Homo sapiens: one gene and its partner. The protein of the gene in region 1 purifies or fractionates together with the protein of each later gene. This does not show direct contact. Each region holds a gene or a part of one and is shown in the gene's direction. Other genes may lie near its edges.

Region 1 (6,773 bases):
GAACGTGAGTATATGGGAGCTTTGTGGGGCTGAGATCGGGGTCCAAGGCTTTTGATGAGGATGTGGCAACATAGATGGGGCAGGGAGAACTCCCACAGGGACTGGTTTTGTCATAGCTGGGAGACCAGTTCATCCCTTACACATGGCATCCTAAGACTTTCCTCAGTGGGCATCTTTGGCATTGCGTTCTTGCTACTGCTACCCTTTCTTGGACTCTTCTCCCACTTCCTGCCCTCTTTCTGGAGCCCCCGGCCTCATCCCCAGAGTGTGTCACCGTTGTCACAGTCTGCTGAACAGCACCCCTGACTGGATCTTGAGCCGAGTCCTGAGGCTCTGGCTCCACTGTTTTCAGCCTGGGGTCAGTGGCTGGGGAGGAAGGGGAAGCCTGGCTCCACCACTCTGTCATGGCAGTGCTGGCCCTAAGGCTGTGACTCTCCTGGCATGTGACAACTCCTTAGGCAGGGCCATGGGGACGGAGCCAAAGAATTGCCAGTGGGGCTCTGAAAGGACAAGTCAGGAAGCAGGAGCTGGCGAGGTAGCAGAGGAGAGGACCAGGAGTATGACCTAGAACAGAAAAGTGTTTTCCATCTGTTCTAACCAGCTGGGAACCACTTTAAACAAAATGTTAGGTATCAAATCTGAGTGATGATGAAAGGAATTTCAAATCTGAGAAAGAGCAAAGGTAAGATATTTCTTCAAAAATTAAAAAAAAACTTATAGAGGTAATACATGCTCTTTGTAGAATAAGTAAAAAATACAGAAAAGTGTACAAAATTTAAAAATCATCCTGTAATTTCATCATTTAGAGATGAGATGCCTTTTTTGCATTGATTGCTGCATGTCTGTATCCACTTATAATATATACGTGGATATATGAATGTGTGTATATAAATGCATATTTTTAAACAGAAATAAAACTGCTTTTTTCACTTATTGCAAGCACTTTATCAGGCAACTAGTCTCTTACAACATACTTTTTTTTTATGAGACACAGTCTTGCTCCGTCACCTAGGCTGGAATGCAGTGGTACAATCTCAGCTCACTGCAGCCTCTGCCTCCCGGGTTCGAGTGATTCTCATGCCGCAGTCTCCCAAGTAGCTGGGATTGCAGGTGCACGCCACTATGCCTAGCTAATGTTTGTATTTTTAGTAGAGACGGGGTTTCACCATGTTGGCCAGTCTGGTCTCAAACTCCTGACCTCAAATGACCCACCAATCTTGGCCTCCCAAAGTGCTGGGATTACAGGAGTGAGCCACTGTACCTGGCCTACAACATACTTTTAATGCCTGCATAGTGTTCCTTTATACGGATAAGCCATGATTTATTTAGCAATTTTCCTGTCTGTGGACATTAAGGTTGTTTTGAATTGTTACAAATAATATTGTGATTAATATGTTGGAAGCTGAATCTTTGTGCATGTTCTCAAGTACCATATTTCCTGGAGAAATGGAATAATGGTCATGCCCATTTCAAAGACTTTGGTATGTGTTGCTAAACTGTCCTCTAGAAAGGTACTTTGAGTACTAGCAATTTCTATTGCTAGGCAGTCATATGAGCGCCAACACTGAGTATTTTTCATTTTGAAAAATCTTCGCCAATTTTCTAAGGCAAGAGATATCTGTAAGGGATATTTTTAGTGTTTGAAGGATCTGTGTTGGCAGATAGATGATAATCTTTAGGTCTTTACTATTTGTCTTTTGCTATTACGTTCTAGAGTTGGCAGGCAGCAGCAGAAAAGCATGTGGAAGAAGGAGCCTAGAACAGGAAATTCACTGGGGAGACAGGGAAGGCCTTTCAGCAGGAATGACATTCTTTAATTCTGTGTCAGGGCCATAGTATGGCCACTGTGGAGATGGATTTTTCACCCACACTGTGTACAAGGGGACATAATGATTTGGTACACTGGCCGGGCGCGATGGCTCATGCCTGTAATCCCAGTACTTTGGGAGGCCAAGGTGGGCAGATCAGGAGTTTGAGACCAGCCTGGCCAACATGGTGAAATCCTATCTCTACTAAAAATACAAAAATTAGCCAGGCTAGTGTCGCACGCTTGTAATCCCAGCTACTCGGGAGGTGGAGGTTGCGGTAAGCTGAGATCATGCCATTGCACTCCAGCCTGGGTGACAGAGCAAGACTCCATCTCGAAAAAAAAAAAAAGAGAGAGAGAGAAATGATTTGGTACACTTGGGTAAATATATGTATAGCCTAGTGAAAGGTTTCAGTTTGGAACGTGACGTATTATGTCAAGTGACATAAGATTTGCTGTGTTGACTTTATAACCTGTGTTTATGTTGGCAGACATAGGCAAACAAAGAAAATAAAAATCACCTATAATCCTGCTTCCCAGAGATAACCTAGTAGCATTTCCAGTGTTGTAATCTATGGACATGCTTGCGTATATTTTGTTTTCTACCCTGCTTACTTAGTATAGCTTGATAACATTTCTACAGTGTTACATTATACCACAACCTCATGTCTACTGTGTATTTCCATCTCACTCAATATTTCAGTTGTTCCACTATTTCATTATTCTTGCAGCCAGCTCTTTGTGTACATGGACCAGGTTTGTTAATCAAGGTTACAATTGTTGGCTCAGTCTCTTTTGAGTGTGGGGTGCTGGAAATAGCGCTGAGTAGGAATAACAGCCTTAGGTTCCAATAAATGGTGCTCACCTGTCTTGTGTCCCTGGATAATTCACTATGTGTCTGTAGACCTCCCTGGCACCTGTGGCAGCATGGTATTATGGGGGGTCAAAGTCATGCTGGGACTGACACCAGCAAGGAAGCCAGGGCCATCACAGAGCAGCCCTCCTCTGGAGCCGTGACATTACGCACCCCATGGCAGCTGGTGTAACTCAGAGACCTGTGGACAAATTCATTGTCAGAGTCAGGTGAAGACTGGGCACACGGCAGATCTGGCCAGACCTGCTCTTTCTAATCAGTGAGATGTATAGTTTAGGGAAAAAGAGATGGGACTTCTGGGACAGGGTAATGATTGACCTTGACTATGAACATCTTACTGGTTTGGGTTTCCATTTTTCTTCTAGCACATAGACAGTAGTTGCACTTCTGTCTCCACTAACTTGTTTCCCATTTGTGATTGTGATTTCCAGGTGATGGCTTTGGAGGAGGCGGGCGTGGTGTGTGTGTGTGTGTGTGTGTGTGTGTGTGTGTGTGTGTGTGTCAGAGAGAGAGGGGAGACTAAGTGACTGAAATAGGCTGTTAGTTTCCTGAATGATGGCTCCTCATGGCTGAGGCTGACTTGATGCCAAGTGTTAGCAAGATTGAGAATGGGAAGGTTGGATTCTACAGCTGTCTCCATTACCACAAACAGGCACTGAGACACTCCCTGGGGAAGAAAGCACCATTTGTCCACTTGACATTGGCTTCTGTCTTAGCCCTGTGCATGTCCTCTAGGCCTTGAGTAGTGTTGGCTGTGTGGTGCTGCACCTGTGCCCAAGGCCTTCTTGTGAATCAGAAGAACCCTTGAGGTCACAGACAAAGTACTTCTTAAAACAGTAGACAAAGGCCCAGGTTGGCAGTATGTACCTAGGGGCCCCACAGGATAATTTCCAGGCCATGTTGAATTCCAAACTCACCTAAAAAGTGTGACTTAGAAGACTTTCCTGTAAATGAATCCTGTGCCATCCCTCCCCTAGAAAGCTAAAGCCATTGAGCTTACATATGCAATTATGCATGCTGCTTTGGCATCTACTGCATGTTCATTATGATAGTATTCCTCAGCTGGGCGCGGTGGGTCACGCCTGTAATCCCAGCACTTTGGGAGGCCAAGGTGAGTGGATCACCTGAGGTCAGGAGTTCGAGACCAGCCTGGCCAACATGGTGAAAACCTGTTTGTACTAAAAATACAAAAATTAACTGGGCATGGTGGTGGGCACCTATAATCCCAGCTACTTGGGAGGCTGAGGCAAGAGAATCACTTGAACCTGGGAGGCGGAGTTTGCAGTGAGCCGAGATCGCGCCATTGCACTCCAGCCTAGGCAGCAAAGTGAGACTCCATCTCAAAAAAAAAAAAAAAAAAAAAAGTATTCCTCATCCTGGGGCTGCCTCCAAGTGGGGGTTGTTGGAAATTCCAAGGGAATCGCAGACCTGGCACCTTGGACAGTGATTTGATGGTTAGTTGAGGTGAGTTTTCAGCTGTCAGAATGTGGAGGGAAAAGGGGCTTTGCTTCTGTTTCAGTCCCGAGAGTGAGCCTGAAAGAGTGGCACTCGGAGCTGGATCATTTGTGGTGGCCTTGGCATCATAGAAAGCTTGCCCCTTTTTCCCTCTGATGACCTCATGATGTTGGGTGGTGTGTGTTTGTGGGTGCATTTATGGCAGGGGCTGGTTGCTTCTTTTCTTGTTCTCTTTCTTGGCTCTCTGGGATGCTGAGTGGCCCCCGGCTCTTGTATTCCCCACTGATTAGTCATGGCCAGGCAGCTGCTCCAGCCAGGGTGGAGTGCTGTGCCTTTACCCACAGCACTGCCTGTTTGTTTTGCTTTATAGAAACTCCAAGAGGAGGAGGAGGAGAGCAACACCAGCAAAGTGCCCACTGCTGTGTCAGAGGATCATCTCTGAGAGGAAGGTGGTGACAACTCAGGGAACACGAACACCCCACCTTTTCCTTCAGCACAGCTCTCACCGCCAGCACAAAGGGCTTCGCTAGAGATGTTTTTGGAGGGAATCAGTGGGACTATTTGTGGCATGGATGGCCTATTCCTCCTAGAACCCACGTAAGAGCTTGGATGATTTAGTTGGAGAAAATTGCACCTATCACCAAATGCAAATTTGATTCCCACCTCCACCCCCTTTTAGGTTATGGGAGTTGGTGTTGGGACAGGGTGGCAGAGAATATTGGAGTCAATCCTAGCTTGGTCTCTTGCCTTCCCTCTTTTCCTCCATCCATCGTGGACAATGCCTGCAAAATTTTCACAGGAAGAAAGCCTATTCAGGATATTAACTTGAAATTTCCAGTGTCCTAAGAGCCTCTCATGAAGCCCAGTTCTAATAAGTGGCAAGCTGCTCTGCCGGGGTCATCTCCTGGGTCATCGGACTGATTGCTCAAGTTCTGCAGGAGAGGAAGCACCATTAGAACAACTCCATCAGAACAGCTCCACCGGGACTTGTGGGCCTAAATTTTCCTGGCCTAACGGGTCTGTCTCCAAACCCTCTTTCCTAAGAGCTGAGCAAACCAACCATAATAAACTTGACAAAAGACTTTGTTGTGGCCATGACAGAGATACCGACTCAGGAGGGCTACCTACCTAGGTGTGATCATGCTGGGGGCTACCTTCTGAGTATATTTGTGAAAGCACATATTTGGGAACTCTGGTAGCTTGAGTTGGGAATGGGAAGGTTCTTTTTTACAGAAGTACTTCCCCAGGGACTTCTGTGTGTCACAGTCACCTCTGATGCCTTTATCTTGATGTTGCATTGGGAATCTCAGCCATCAGCCCAAGTGCTTGTTTTATTCCAAGGCAGGGTAATCCCCGTCAACTTACTCTAACCTTTGCTGAAAACTAATCTTGATTCATTCTACTCTGAAAATCCAAAGGTGCTTCTGAGAGATAAGAGGGAAGGGGTAGAAGGAAAGGTGCCCCTTGAAATGGGAATTGAGCCTGTTAGAATTAAAAGCTTATCTCACCTCTGCTGGGGACAGTATTTGCACCACCAACCCCTCTCCTCACCTGCTTTGAGCGATAATCTTTATCAGATATTCTAAACTTAAAGGGATTCCCTTTAAACCAACTCAAGCTGATCTTTCCTATCTAGCCTGCTGTTTGGCTGTACTCATGGGCTTTGGTAATATCTCCTAAAAATGAGGTTTTGGTAATTTTTCCTATGCATTGGGCAACTGTGATCGTGACCACTGTGCTGTCTTGCTCCAGCCACTGCCCTGGCCTCAGCATATCAGGGCAGCCTGTGCTGGCTGCAATACTGTGGTGCTTGGGCCACTGCCTGAGAGGAGCCAGGTTTGTGTGTGTCTGCATGTGTGTGTGTGTGTGTTTGTACAGATTCAAGCAATGGATGCAAGGAACATGCTGTATGTAATAGAAGAAAGAAGTCCACGTTTTCGGCAGAAGTAGTGAGTCAGTGTGGAAGAGAGGTGAGGGTGTGCTTTACTTTTTGATAAAGAGAAAGATGTTTACTCATAAACCCTTCAAAAGGTATTAACAAAATGTTTACCAAACCTATTGCTTTATTTTAAAAACATAATTTGTGTTTTCTATTTGTAAGATCTGACATTTCGAGGCAATAAAAACTTCTCAGAAAGTGGTCTGCCTTATCATTCAGTGGGGCAGAGATGGCTCTTAGAAGTCCCTGCAAGACTGTCACACATTCCTGAGGCTCCTGTCTTAGGTGTGGGGAAGGGCTGGGCTGGGGCGGGGGAGTGTGAGGCTAGAGAAGCAGCAACTGTGGTCTTCCACAGGAGCATCTCACTGTTGCCAGACCTTACCATCTGGGAGGGATATTTTTTAAAGACAAGGCTGTAAAGGTTACTGTTTGCCTACATGGAGGGACTGCAACTCAACATCCAGCACGACCCTGACCTCTTTCCATGCTGTGTACGCGCTGGAATGTGAGTGACTGCTGATGAGAGAGTCCACTGTTGTTTCTGGCTCTGCCTCAAAGGGTGGTTGAAATGTTTGTTCTCTGATTACCTCAGCCATGCATCAGCTTGCTGTGGCTGGGGCCCATGGCTCAGTCCCAGCAGCTGCAGTCTTGCGTTACCATTTTTCTTCCTAACTGGCCAACGTCCTGTTACTCATCCC
Region 2 (8,362 bases), on another chromosome or scaffold:
TTTGCATGGCCGTGTCGTATTCTGTGGGGACAGATGTGTGTCCACCCACTGGCGACAGGTGGGTTGTGGGCCTTGCGCCCAGTCGGCCGCCCCAGAGCCCGCGTCGCAGGCAGTCTCTGGCCCGCCTTGTGCCCGGCGTGCTGACCGGGCATCCCCGTGCCCGCTCGCAGGCCATGACGCTGATGGAGTACCTCATCAAGACCGGCTCGGAGCGCGTGTCGCAGCAGTGCAAGGAGAACATGTACGCCGTGCAGACGCTGAAGGACTTCCAGTACGTGGACCGCGACGGCAAGGACCAGGGCGTGAACGTGCGTGAGAAAGCTAAGCAGCTGGTGGCCCTGCTGCGCGACGAGGACCGGCTGCGGGAAGAGCGGGCGCACGCGCTCAAGACCAAGGAAAAGCTGGCACAGACCGCCACGGGTGAGTCCCTCCCTGCGGCCCCTGACGGCCTAGAGTCTGTCCTCCGCCTACTGCGGCTCCCGGCACCCGGCCGCCCACTGCTTTCTCTCCCAGCCAGGAGGGACCGCGGCATCCCCCTTTGCTTCTCCTCACCTGGGCCCCTTGCTCTGGTCTCACTTGGGCCCTTTTTTTCCCTTAGCACCTCCCATGCAGCAGCTCTGGGACCCTTCCTGCCTCTTGCCTCGTGCCCCAGGGCAGGCCTAGAATTGGGAACTTTTATTCCGCTCCCCCATAGGCTCAGGGCCTGAGGGTGATCAGTGCTGGGGACAGGGCTCTGAGGGGACACGCACAGTGACCCCCGAGGGTGCTGTCCTTCTCTCTGCGCTGAGATGAGGGGAACATCGGAGAGGCAGAGGGGGGCCTGGAAGAGGCACAGAAGGAAGGCCAGAGCCAGGGCCTGCAGGTTGCACCAGGCATCTGGGCCTGTGTTAGGAGCCTTGACAGTGCCTTCTGGAGGTGGAGGACTCAGTCTGGTGGGTGGTGACCAGCACCGAAAACAAAACTTGAAATAGTGCATCCCACATCGTCAAGCCAAGATCTGTCCCACGAAACATTTCCAGTTATGTGATGGGTGTGTGGGTCTCGGACTGTTCCAGGAAGTGTGGTCTGTGTTGGTCGGGGGCTCACAGCCGTGAAGAGGCTAGTCCGGCTGCTCAGGACTGGGAGGGAGGCTGGAGAATGTCTGCCAGGCTCTTCTGCTCTCCAGGAAGAGTGGAGGTGCCTCAGTTAGTGGGGATACGTGGGATGGGGAGGGGCTGCTAGAGCACTGCCCTGGAGGTGGAGGTGGGTCAGCCAGGCCGGTGCAGACAGGAGGAAGGGCCTGTGGCCCTCGTGGGGTCCGGCTCGAGGGACTGGACTTGTTTGGGGAAGTCTAGGCCTTCTGTTTGGACGGGTCTCATTTGGGATCACCTTTCAGCACCCACGGGGAGACATGGGTGTGACGGGGTGTGTGCGACCCTGCCTGGGACTCCAGAGTAGGGACCCACGAGCCAGTAGATGGGCGTGAACGCAGAGAGAGAGTGAAGTGGAGGGAAGGAAGCCGGTGTGGCGTGGGAGTGCTCAGAGCCAGGGACAACAGGAGGGAGTGTAGGCGGCAGAGAGGGGCTGGTCAGCTCGAGGCAGGCAGGCAGGCAGGTGGGTGGCGGGGTTGGGGTGGACGGAGGAGGGACATTGGCAGTAGCTCGGAGGAGAGTGGGAGCCTCAGGTAAGAGGCCTGAGGGTGGGACATCCTGGCTCGGGGGTCGTCAGACTTTGTGCAAGGCCAGAGCTAATGTCCTCTGCGTTGCTGGCCACGCCTTCCCATCCTAGCTGCCTGGCCCCGTCCGCTGGCGGTTGCTGGGAAGCAGCTGCACCCCTCCGACACTCACCAAGGTCTCCGAAATTTGAATTTTATGTAGTTTTCACGTGTCTTTTTTAAGACTTTTAAGTTGTTATTTAATTTTTTAAGGGTACTCTGAATTTTCGCCCATCTTGGTGCATTCTTTTCATTTCTTCCAACCATTGAAAAATGTAAAGGCCTTTCTTAGACCTTCTCAGGCCAGCTGTGGCTGCCACTGTGGTGTGCTGGCCCCTGTCTTGGAGTGAGTTGTGTGGAGGGCTGTGGCTGGGGAGGAGGATGGGGGCAGCTAGGGAGTGAGCCCTGAGACCCTCAGTGGGCAGGGAAGGGCCTGTGGTCCCCGGGCAGCACCGAGGCTGGGTGCTCTGGTGATGGGAAGGCCCGGGTGTTGCTGGCTGGGTGCCAGTATTACCTGTGATGTGGGAGGTGGGGCCCTCAGGGCTGCTGGGCATTGGATTTAGCCACCACCAGGCTGGGGGGTTAGGGGCATGTGCAAGGTAGAGGTTGGGCAATGGGGTGTAGATTCCCAGCACTCACCTCTGAGAGTCCCTAGAGCTTAGGAGGAAGTCACAGGGGCAGGGAAGAGCAGGAGGGGCCACAGGGGTGTGGTCCTCCCTGTGCGCTGGCCTCACCTGTGCCCCACGCTGCCCTTCCATCTGCCCATCCCCTCAGAAGGCCGCTTACCCACCCAAGTCCGTCAATCCCTGCTGGTTCTCTCGTCCTTTCCTCACTCATAACCCCAGATGGTCACCCTTCGGCCCCGCTCTGCCACCCACATGCTCCCTGGAGCATCCCATGCACCCAGCCCTGCTGGGCACACCACACGGGGGCCAGCCTGGGGGCCCCTGGACCCGGTGCAGGTGGGGCCGCCAGACAGCTGCCTGCTGCGGCTCCGGGCAAGGGGAGCCAGGGCCTGCTCGTCAGGGAGAGGCCTGGGCCTGGGGAGTGGGTTGGGTGGGGACACAAGTACAGGACACAGGTGCAAGGCGGCGTCTTGGAGCTGGAGCAGACAGAACTTGCTGACCAGTGCACAGTGGTTGGGAGGGCGGGGCAGGAGAGGCAGGGTCCGCCCTGGGGCTTTGGAGGCTGGGGCAATGGCCCTGTGCTCGGCGGGCCTAGGGCCTGGTTGGAGCCTGTCCTCTGCACTGTGGAGGGGGGCAAGGGTCCACAGGCCTTGGGGGTGGAGAGAACAGTGTCAGGACAGAGTTTGAGGGTAGGCGGGGTTGCTGAGAGGATGCTGCAGTGGAGGCCGGGGATATCTCAGCAGCCTCCTGGAGGGTCCGGCCCTGCCTTCCTGTGTCCTCTCTCTCCCTTCCCCTCCTGCTCTTGGAACCAAGGGCTCCTCGCTAGCCCACTCCCTAACCCCGACTAGGCCTTGGATCCCGCTGTCTCAATGGATGCTGTTCTCCCCTCTGAATTCCAGTTGTTCCCTGCCAGAGCTACCATTCTCAACAAGCCCTGGAAACAGGCCTGGGAAACCTGGGAGGAAGGACCTCCCATCCCCCAGGGGCCCAGGGACAGACCCCAGGCACGCGGAGAGTCCTGGTGGTGGCAGGGCTCAGAGGTTGCTGGGGTTCCCCACCTGCTTATCAGACTGACTTTTGCTCTGGTCCTTCCCTGATGCCTGGCCCCTCCCGTGGGTGGGGCTGCCTGCATCCCCACCCTTCCTCCTCTGAGCACCTGGCGTCTGGTCTCCGCCTCTCAGTCCTAGTCTTGGCCTGCAGAGGTTGTAGGGTGGGGGACTTGGGGGGTGGGGTTGGACACAGAAGCCCCCGTCTGTCTAGGCTATGGGGTTTCCTGTCTCTCGTTCCCTGGTCTGGGTCTCACGCGTTTCTCACCCGCCCTCCAGCCTCATCAGCAGCTGTGGGCTCAGGCCCCCCTCCCGAGGCGGAGCAGGCGTGGCCGCAGAGCAGCGGGGAGGAGGAGCTGCAGCTCCAGCTGGCCCTGGCCATGAGCAAGGAGGAGGCCGACCAGGTACTGGGCGTGCAGCTGGGGCTGTCTGTCCGCCACCCGCCTCCACGCCTCACTTCAGGCTCCCTCCCAGCCAGGCGTGGGCCTGGCCCTCACTGTCGCTGCTCCACATGCTGTCACTCGTCTCCTCCCCAGTCCTGCCTCATCCTCACCCCGCCGTCCCTCTGCGTGTCACTCTCTGCCTGTCCCTCACTGGTTCAGGGACCCCCAGCCCTCTCTTTCTTCGGCTCTATCTGACCCTGGCTCTGCCTCTGACTCTGCCTCTGGCCCCTCCCGTCATGCCCCTCACACTCTCTCTCCCCCAGCCCCCGTCCTGCGGCCCCGAGGACGACGCCCAGCTCCAGCTGGCCCTTAGTTTGAGCCGAGAAGAGCATGATAAGGTCAGAGCAGCCTCCCTGTCCCTGCCCCTGCCAGGGGCTCCCCTCAGACCAGCCCCGTCGCCCCTTCCTAAGTCACCCCCCACCATCCTGCTGGGCCCGAAGCCCACAGGCTCACGCGTGTTGAAACCTCAGTACCTTCAGCCGTAGGATGTAGGACCACAAGTCAGACAGAGCCTGGGTGGTGGCCAGCACAGCTGTGCCAAGGTTGCTCGGGTGACCAGGGTCCCTTCCTCCCCCCAACGCAGGAGATACCACCGAGGCGGGTGCCCGTCCTCCCCGGGTGCGCCAGCACAGCACCCCACTCCCCTTATCCCCTGTCCCGCCTGACCTTTGACCCAGGTGCCCCATCCCCATTTCATACATTGTCCGCATCCCATCGAATCCTTCAGCCGCTTTCGTTGGGGTGGGAGGGGTTGCTGGGGCTTCCAGGCTGAGGTGGCATCTGCCCGTGGCTCACGTTCTCATGTCTCCCTGGTCGTGCCCGTGCCCCAACAGGAGGAGCGGATCCGTCGCGGGGATGACCTGCGGCTGCAGATGGCAATCGAGGAGAGCAAGAGGGAGACTGGGGGCAAGGAGGAGGTGAGCGGGGCTTGTTCTGCCCTCCCTGGCCCCTGCAGGTGTCCGTCCGTCCCATCGCTCATTCCTGCGTGGCCAGGTCCCTGGAGCAGAGACTGAAACACAAGGTCCTGGAGCTGGGCACCGGGTTTCCAGGCTTGGTCGGCCTCTCTGTGCCTCTCCCTCCCTGCTGGGCTGAGGCCGGTGACTGACCAGGCTGCCCTGCGGCCACCTCCTGTGGTCAGCGCTGGCCATCCCCCTTCGGGCTGAGCACCGTGAGGGCCACCACCGGCCGCCACAGCTGAATGGGGAGGCCCAGAATAGGCCAACAGCCTGGCATGGCCACAGGGAGGAGGGTGCAGGGCTCGCCCCATCTGTCACACTTTGTCGGGCACCTCCTTGGTGCCAGGCCGTGTGCTGCACACCCAGGGCCTGTTGGTGAGCGAGGAGGCATGGTCCCGCCCTCGCGAACACTGTTTCTGTGGCGTCCCCATGCTCTGCAGCTGAGTAGCAAACCCTCCCACAACCTTGTGCTTCCAGGTCACGCTTCAGTACTTCCCTGTGACGGGCCCGCTGGCTGGTTGTTTCGTGTCATGGCTGAGGTCACTCATGCCTCTGGGCCCGGGGTGTCCGCACTGGCCTTGCCCTCCAGCCTCCTCCCCTGGCCTCTCCCTGGTTACTAGTCTGTCCTGAGTGTCCTCATAGCACAGTAGCTGCTGCTGCTGCCGCCCCCCAGGACAAGCTCGTCGGGCTGGGTTGGAGTTGCCTCGTCAGCCTGTGCACTGCTATTGGTCTCAGCAGGTCCTGAGGCCAGCCCAAGTTTGAGGGGTGGGGACAAGGCCTCCTCTCCATGGGAGGCGGCAGACAGCTTGTGGCCATAAGTGATCAGGCACAGTGGGACTTTCTTGGTAGACGGAAAGCCTCTTTAGGTTGGCCTCGGCCAGGGGGTCTCTATCAGTGTCCACCACAGCCCAGTGACCCGAGTAAGGGCTGCCCTGCTGGGGGAGCACCAGATCTCACCCATCTCTTCTCCTGCCCTGCCCTGGACTCAGCTCTTCTCCCCTTCCCATCCCCGCCGGGGCCTTTGCCTCACGGGTGCTGACTGGAGATGTGTGCATGAGTATGTTGGGGGCATCTGCACGTTCTGAGACGGGCTCTGGTTAGCTGGGCCCGTCGTGTGCCCACTTCCAGAACACAGGACCATGCATGCGTGTGCGTGCGGCATGGGAAGACCTGCAGTGCGATGACTGCGGGGTGACAGTGGGGCAATGGGCGTGGGAAGGCCTGCAGCGCGATGACTGCGGGGTGACGGCGGGGCAACGTAGGGGGCATCGTGAGGGGTGCTCAGGTTGACCTGAGTGGGTTCATGGGGGGCTTCCCAGGGGAAGGCATGGAGCAGGGGCTGGCCAGTCTGGCTGGAGAAGGCACGGTGGGCAGAGGGAGGATCGAGCTGCTTCGGGTCGAGCGAGGGGAGGGCTTGGCCTCCATCCTCAGTCAGGGCCGGGCAAGGACCTGGGAGCAGGTGGAGTTAAGGGGCTGCCCTGCTGCAGTGTGGAGAATGGATGTGGGGCAGGAGTGGGGCTGTGTTGGGGCTCCCTGGTGGTACCCTCGGGTGGGGTAGGTGGGCAGGGGTGGGCCGACCCCATGACGGATGAGGAGGGAGGCCAGGTGGTGTGTTTGGGGCCTGCCTCCCTCTCACCCCTTATGGATGGCTGCTGTCTGGACACCCAGGGCCTGGCCGCCTCCCCCGCCACGGGCCCCAGCTTGGTCCCTGTCCCAGGCTTCCCACCACTTCTTCATGCTCCTTCTCTTCTCTCTCCCCCACAGTCGTCCCTCATGGACCTTGCTGACGTCTTCACGGCCCCAGCTCCTGCCCCGACCACAGACCCCTGGGGGGGCCCAGCACCCATGGCTGCTGCCGTCCCCACGGCTGCCCCCACCTCGGACCCCTGGGGCGGCCCCCCTGTCCCTCCAGCTGCTGATCCCTGGGGAGGTCCAGCCCCCACGCCGGCCTCTGGGGACCCCTGGAGGCCTGCTGCCCCTGCAGGACCCTCAGTTGACCCTTGGGGTGGGACCCCAGCCCCTGCAGCTGGGGAGGGGCCCACGCCTGATCCATGGGGAAGTTCCGATGGTGAGTGCGTGGCCCACTTGCATGCAGCCCCTACGCCTGTGTGCACCTGTCTTTGGTTGACTGTGCCCTTGGACAGGGACAGATCGAGCCAGTGGCGCCGGGCAGTGGTGGGGCGTCCTGGGTGCAGGGGAGGGGGCAAGGGCGGGGGTCAGATGAGAGCCCAGCACAGGGTGTGTGAGATTGTGCCTTGGAGGACATGGGGGGTGTGCTGTGGGGAGGGGATGGCAGCTCAGCCGAGGGGCAGAGAGGCTCTGGCCAAGGCAGAGCGTGTGTGACGTAGGCATCTGGGGAGGGCGGTGGGTGGAGCTGGGAGGTGCAGGTGGAGAAGGGGCCTGACACCCAGCTGGACAGGGGAGGGGTGGCCGAGCCGTGGGAGCTGAGGGAGGGCTGGGCAGGTCTGGCAGAGGCTGCGGGGAAGCCCCTCACCCCAGCTGGGGTCCCAGGGGCAGAGCCTGGCAGAGAAGCCCAGTTGGAATTTGAGTGTGTGTGCGGGAGGCCGGGTGGGGTGGGTTTCTGGGGGGCAGGGGGGCTTTTGTGTGAACAGCCACAGATTTGGAGGCAATGGTCCTCCCTAGCCATCTGGGCAGTCAAGGTTGCCAGCCCCTCATGCTCTTCTGTCCTCACCCAGGTGGGGTCCCGGTCAGTGGGCCCTCAGCCTCCGATCCCTGGACACCGGCCCCGGCCTTCTCAGATCCCTGGGGAGGGTCACCTGCCAAGCCCAGCACCAATGGCACAACAGGTACTGGAATGGGGGTGGGAATGGAGCCCCGGGTGGGAGTGAGTGGGAGAAGTTAGTGTTGAGTGTCCTAAGGGAGGGGTGGACGCCTGGACTGGAGGTGGGGGCTGAGGCGGGGCCCCAGGGAGGGGCTGAGCAGAACATCCTGACCCCACAGCAGCCGGGGGATTCGACACGGAGCCCGACGAGTTCTCTGACTTTGACCGACTCCGCACGGCACTGCCGACCTCCGGGAGCAGCGCAGGTGAGCCCCTGCCCTCCCCTGCCCAGTGGCGAGAGGGAGCCTCCCCTAGCTCTTCGGGAGCCCCGTCCCTTGCTGTCTTTGTCCCACTCCAGGCAGGGCCGGCTGGACTTAGGGATGAAAAGTTCAGTTGGGTAGAGTGGGCCAGAACCATCCACCTGTCTTTAAAAGAAGTGTGCATCTTTATTTTAGAGAAATTGCAGACTTAGAGAAAAACTGAGAATTGTTCTCAAGGTTTCCCACCCGAATGTTGACCTCTGACCCGTCTCTGCCTCCACGTTGCTTGAGTGCCTTGCAAACTCTCCAGGTGTCTCAAAGAACACGGACTGTCTTGTCCTGTGCAGTGAGCTGCGTGGACAGGGGTTTGGAAGGCAGCCGAGGCTCCCCTTCCGGGTCGCCACTCACCTGCTGGTGGCTCCTGGGCTGGCCAGGGTGCGTCCTCATGGGTGCTGCCTTTAGCTGCCCTGGCTCCTTGGGGTTTTCAGCTGGCGTAAGCTGGCGCCCATCGCCGGTGACGGGCCCATCTGCTGAGTCCTGAGTGGCTCTTCGTCAG

What was found.
Region 2: the proteins of FLVCR2 (region 1) and EPN1 purify together in Homo sapiens (affinity purification with mass spectrometry; 2 studies listed by BioGRID and IntAct, with this or other methods). This does not show direct contact.

What each region holds. Positions count from the first base shown.
Region 1 is NC_000014.9:75,641,895-75,648,667, forward strand, and holds the end of FLVCR2 (choline/ethanolamine transporter FLVCR2), read left to right. Parts: coding exon 1-4; intron 5-4,506; coding exon 4,507-4,578; 3' UTR 4,579-6,273; downstream 6,274-6,773. UniProt on the Homo sapiens protein: Choline uniporter that specifically mediates choline uptake at the blood-brain-barrier. Responsible for the majority of choline uptake across the blood-brain-barrier from the circulation into the brain.
Region 2 is NC_000019.10:55,685,226-55,693,587, forward strand, and holds part of EPN1 (epsin-1), read left to right. Parts: intron 1-170; coding exon 171-420; intron 421-3,644; coding exon 3,645-3,769; intron 3,770-4,071; coding exon 4,072-4,146; intron 4,147-4,641; coding exon 4,642-4,725; intron 4,726-6,528; coding exon 6,529-6,832; intron 6,833-7,460; coding exon 7,461-7,571; intron 7,572-7,725; coding exon 7,726-7,812; intron 7,813-8,362. UniProt on the Homo sapiens protein: Binds to membranes enriched in phosphatidylinositol 4,5-bisphosphate (PtdIns(4,5)P2). Modifies membrane curvature and facilitates the formation of clathrin-coated invaginations. Regulates receptor-mediated endocytosis.